Regions from separate parts of the Homo sapiens genome. Here region 1 is linked to region 2. The links come from fine-mapping of genetic effects on gene expression. A gene starts in region 2. The other region holds a variant in brackets. All regions are shown on one strand. Distances are between the middles of the regions. Region 1 overlaps EMC1 (ER membrane protein complex subunit 1). Region 2 holds the start of EMC1 (ER membrane protein complex subunit 1).

Evidence for each region. PIP is the estimated chance that this variant, and not a neighbour inherited with it, causes the effect.
Region 1: its variant is fine-mapped to the expression of EMC1 in whole blood (TOPMed, PIP above 0.99).

The regions. Positions count from the first base shown.
Region 1 is chr1:19,225,185-19,228,200 of GRCh38, reverse strand. EMC1 (ER membrane protein complex subunit 1) reads left to right here. Exons shown (of 23, transcript NM_015047.3): 18 at 751-888. The region is part of intron 1 of EMC1-AS1 (EMC1 antisense RNA 1); the gene reads right to left. Among named protein-coding and RNA genes, the nearest start is that of EMC1-AS1, 16 kb to the right of the region's middle. The variant A/G (reference allele first, on the strand shown) is at 1,581.
Region 2 is chr1:19,250,439-19,252,938 of GRCh38, reverse strand. It overlaps EMC1 (ER membrane protein complex subunit 1), which reads left to right and starts at 1,415. Exons shown (of 23, transcript NM_015047.3): 1 at 1,415-1,524. The coding sequence starts at 1,430. MRTO4 (MRT4 homolog, ribosome maturation factor) reads right to left here and starts at 1,134. Exons shown (of 8, transcript NM_016183.4): 1 at 1,076-1,134. The coding sequence starts at 1,103. RefSeq lists an enhancer at 997-1,502.

The DNA of each region.
Region 1 (3,016 bases), 25 kb after region 2:
GGAGTTTCGCTCTTGTTGCCCAGGCTGGAGTGCAATGGTGCAGTCTCGGCTCACTGCAACCTCCACCTCCTGGGTTCAAGTGATTCTCTTGCCTCAGCCTCCTGAGTACCTGGGATTAAAAGCATGCGCCACCACACCCGGCTAATTTTGCATTTTTAGTAGAGATGTGGTTTCTCTATGTTGGTCAGGCTGGTCTCAAACTCCCGACCTCAGGTGATCCACCTGCCTCGGCCTCCCGAAGTGCTGGGATTACAGGTGTGAGCCACCACGCCCGGTCTAGTATCTATCTTAATCAAACCGAGAGTTCTGAAATTTCTTCATAAACTAGATCTCTATTGCTGTTTTTCTGGTTTATTTTTTGTTTTGAGTCTTGCTCTGTCACTCAGGCTGGAGTGCAGTGGCGTGATCTCAGCTCACTGCAGCCTCTGCCTCAGCCTCCCGAGTGGCTAGGATTATAGGTGCCTGCCACCACATCTGGCTAATTTTTTGTATGTTTAGTAGAGATGGGGTTTGGCCATGTTGGCCAGGTTGGTCTTGAACTCCTGACCTCAAGTGATCCGCCCGCCTTGGCCTCCCAAAGTGCTGGGATTACAAGAATGAGCCACTGCTCCTGGCTCATTTTTCTAGTTCTGATCTCTATTCCTTCCTGCACAAAGGCCTCAAATAATGAACTGTAGGATGTGTCTAACTCCAGCTGTTTCAGTTCTAAGTGTACCCTCCTGATTACAGGCTTTTTTGCCCCTGCCCTAGGATCTCACCACTGAGCTGAGTTGGGAGCTGACCATTCCCCCAGAAGTACAGCGGATCGTCAAGGTGAAGGGGAAACGCAGCAGTGAGCACGTTCATTCCCAGGGCCGTGTGATGGGGGACCGCAGTGTGCTCTACAAGGTACATACAGCCAGCTGTCTGGTCTACAGCAAGGGCTTTCGAATCAGGAAAACAAGGGCTTCAAGTCTGGCTGTAGGACTTGGTACATATATGACCTTGAGTAAGTCATTTAATCCCTTTGAGCCTTAATTTTTGTTTGTGAAATGGGGATAATATACCCTCCTCCTGGGCTTGTTGTGATGATCACATGGGATGTTCATGTCTAGCCCAGTGCCTAGCATATGGTAAGTAAGCAACAGATGTTAGCTCTTATTTTTTTGACTTTTTTTTTGTTTGTTTGTTTCCTGTGACAGAGTCTTGCTCTGTTGCCCAGGCTGGAGTGCAGTGATGCAGTCATGGCTCACTGCAGCTTCGTCCTCCTGGGCTTATGCAATCCTTTCACCTCAGTCTCCCAAGTAATTGGAACCACAGGCACATGTCATGCTAATTTTTTAAAAACGGCTGGGCTTGGTGGCTCATGCCAGTAATCCCAGCATTTTGAGAGGTCGAGGTGGGTGGATTACTTGAGTCCAGGAGTTTGAGGCCAGCTTGGGCAACATGGCTGAAACCTTGTCTTTACCACCCCCAAAAAAAAAAAACAAAAAAAACAATTAGCTGGGCATGGTGGTGCATGCCTGTGGTCTCAGCTACTCGGGAGGCTGAGGTAGGAGGATCACCTGAGCCTGGGGAGGTTGAGGCTACAGTGAGCTGCA[A/G]TTGTGCCGCTGCACTCCAGCCTGGGTGACAGAGTGAGACCCTGTCTCCAAACAAACAAAAAAAATTTTTTTTAAATTTTTTATTTTTGTAGAAGATAGAGATCAACCTAGGAAACATAGTAAAACCCTGTCTTCAAAAAAAAATTTTTTTTTAATTTTTTATTTTTATATTGACAGGGTCTCACTATGTTGCCTAGGTTGGTCTCTATCTCCTGGCCTCAAGCAGTTCTCTTACCTTAGCCTCCCAAAGTGTTGAGGTTAGAGACTTGAGCCACTGCGCCTAGCCCAGCTCTTATTACTAGTGGTAGTACTGATAGAGCATTCTGGGGTTAAACCATAGTCGAGCCATCAGAAACTCCATCTCTGTGATCCAACACTCTAGTTAGTGTTAAAGAGAGGGAGATTAAGGTGACTAGTGGGCTGCAAAACTGTTATGGGAGAGAATGTAATGATAGTAGTAATGCACATTAATTACACCCTCTGGTACAGCAGAGACTGAATTGGAGGGGGTGTCATAGAATAGAGATCACGGAACTTGACGGTAAAGCTGGATCACTAAGCATGAGCCAGTGCAACACAGTGCAAGCCTCTAGTTTGACTGTTAAGACTTGGCTCTGCCGTGGCCTAGCTGTTCATCTCTTAGGCTGCCTGAGCTTCAATTTTCCCCAGTATAATGGGGATAATAGCACCAACGTCAGAGGATTGTTTTGAAGATTAATGATAACATGTAAAGTGATTAGAATAGTGCCTGCCACATACTTAACATTATTATTAGTGCTATTGACTCTTTTTTTTTTTTTTTGAGACAGGGTCTTGCCATGTTGCCCAGGCTGGAGTGCAGTGGTGTGATCACAGCTCACTGCAGCTTTGACCTCCCGGGCTTAAGCAGTCCTCCCATCTCAGCCTCCTAAGCAGCTGGGACAACAGGTGCATGTCACCATGGCTTATTTTCTTTTCTTTCTTTTCTTTTTTTTTGAGATGGAGTCTTGCTCTTTCACCAGGCTGGAGTGCAGTGGCACGATCTTGGCTCACTGCAACCTCCACGTCCCAGGTTCAAGAGATTCTCCTGCCTCAGCCTCCCGAGTAGCTGGGACTACAAGCGCGCACCACCATGCCCAGCTAAATTTTGTATTTTTAGAGATGGGGTTTCACCATGTTGGCCAGGATGGTCTTGATCTCTTGATCTCGTGATCTGCCCGCCTTGGCCTCCCTAAGTGCTGGGATTACAGGCGGGAGCCACCGTGCCCAGGCACTTATTTTATTTTCTTTAGAGATGGGGTCTTGCTGTGTTGTTCAGATTGGTCTTAAACTCCTGGGCTCAAGCAATCCTCCCATCTTGGCCTCCCAAAGTGTTAGGATTACAGGCATGAGCCACCGCACCCGGCCAGCAGCAAGCAGTTTTTGAGTGCTAGCTGGATGCAGGCACTCATTTAGAC
Region 2 (2,500 bases):
GTCGGGTGTAGTGGCTCACGCCTGTAATCCCAGCACTCAGGGAGGGTGGTTGGAGCCCAGGTGTTCGAGACCAGCTTGGCAACACACTGAGTCTTCTCTATAAAAAATAAACAAAAAAAACCTAGCTGGGTGTGGTGGCGTGCGCCTGTAGTCTCAGCTACTCGGGAGGTTGAGGTGGGAGGATCGCTTAAGCCAAGGAGGTCAAGGCTGCAGTGACTTATTTTATTTATTTATTTTTGAGACGGAGTCTCGCTCTGTCGTGCCCAGGCTGCAGTACAGTGGAGCGATCTCGGCTCATTGCAACCTCCGCCTCCCGGATTCAAGCGATTCTCCCGCCTCAGTCTCCCAAGTAGCTGGGATTACAGGCACCTGCCACCATGCCCATCTAATTTTTAGTATTTTTAGTAGAAAAGGGGTTTCACCATATTGGCCAGGCTGGTCGGGAACTCCCGACCTCAGATGATTCGCCCGCCTCGGCCTCCCAGAGTGCTGGGATTACAGGCGTGAGCCACCGCATCCGGCCTGCAGTGTTACGATCGCGCCACTGCACTCCAGCCTGGGCAACAGAGCGAGACCCTGTCTCAGAGGGATCCTATTAACTGACAACTAAGAAGGCGCAAACCATACGAAGATGTAAGCATGCCAGGCAGAAACAACCGCAGACACACAACGCCAGACACGGGAACAAACCTGTGCTGAAAGAAGGGAAAGGCAGCCAGGGTGGCGGGAGCGCAGGAAGATGAGAAAGGGCCGAAGTTGGGAAAAGTGGGCCGAAACGGCAGCAGGCATAGCCGGGGGCGGTGTTCAGGAGCTGCCTCCCGACCCAGTTGGCCTTGCAAGAGCACCTGAAACTAGGCAAAACGAGTCTCCGCTCCCCAGACCCGACCGGGCGTCAGCCACCTCTGGCGGTTTTACAGCCCCGAAGCCCCCATTCCAGCTCGCAGCGAGGCAGCGGAACACCTCGAGGATGTCCTGGCGTTCCAATCTGCGCCCCCGCCGCCCCGAAGCCCTCACCGCAGGCTGGGTAGCCAGCCCACGGAGCTCCCCCCAGGGTCCCGACTCCCCCTTCGCCCACCTTTCTTGTCGCGCTTGGATTTGGGCATCGCGCTGAATCCACGTGCGGCGGAAGACGGTGCACCCCGTTAGGACCCCGGCGGCGCGGGGGACTCTGGGACGGCCCTCGGGGGCTGCCCCTCGCGTGTGCCTGACCCAATGTGCACTGCAGCCTGCCTCTCCCTGCCAAGCCGCCGCCTGCGCTTTCTCCCGCGCCTGTAGGGCAACTTCCCGTGTGCCGAGGCAGTCCCTGAATCCCGAGCGTCCCGTCCGACCGAGGGCCTCGCGCGCTATCCCAGCTCTGTGGTCCCGCGGAGGCGGAGCCCGCGGCGCGGTGCATGCCGGGACGGCGGTGGGTGGTGCATGCGCTCGCATCATGGCGGCTGAGTGGGCTTCTCGTTTCTGGCTTTGGGCTACGCTGCTGATTCCTGCGGCCGCGGTCTACGAAGACCAAGTGGGCAAGTTTGATTGGTGCGTACGTGTGGAACATATTCGAGAGATAAGTGGCTGTTTCCCCAGTACCTGTCTCCTACCTGCTAAAGGTTGTCACTTAACAGGATTGGCCGCATAATTTGCAGGACCCAGTACAAAATGAAAACGTGGGGCCCCTTGTTAAAAAATTATTAAGGATTTAAAGTCGTTGGAAGCAGAGCCTTAAACCAAGTGTTAGGGGTCATTCTAAGCTGATCCTTGCGTGTAAGCCGGCCCTGCCATCCAGGAATGCTTGGGGTGCCGGTCAGAGATCACTGATCCCGTCCTCCCTCGTCAGGTTCGATTTTTTTGACTGTGAGGTTTCTGGTCTACCAGGTGTCAGAGGTCGCCAAGCTGTCAGTGAACTTTAATTCCTACTCGAATTGGTGTCTTGTAGGCAAGTGAACAGGAGCTTTCGTCTTAAAAGTCCTAAACTGAGTCCTTTTCCCCTCTCATCAACCTAGTCTGGCCCTGGGCTCACAGCAGGATTGCCCAAAACACTAAGCAGCTAGAATATGCCATTCACTCATTCATTCATTCACCCACCCACGTCTTCCTTAAGGCCCTGGAGTAGCTTGCTTTTGTTTGAATTTTACTAGTTAAGACTTGTGTGATCTTGGGGAAAGTGACTTAACCACTCTGTGCCTTGGTTTCTTTGTCTGTAGAATGGGTTTACTAACAGTCCGTTATCTCTTACAGTACTTGTGAGAATGAATGAGACAATCCCATTAAATTACTTAGCACAATGCCTGGCTCATTGAATGCAGTCATTAAGCGTTATCTGTTATTATTGCTATTTACACTTTATTCTTCAGGGCCCAGGTCAGATTTCTCCTCCTCTGAAGTATTTTCTGTCTTGGAAAAGTTGATTCGCATATATGTTGAGTACCTGTTATGCCAGACAGTGTGACAAATAAAACATGTTACATTTTTAATGATGTGCACAACTGTTCACAATGTCATATGTGTATGTTAC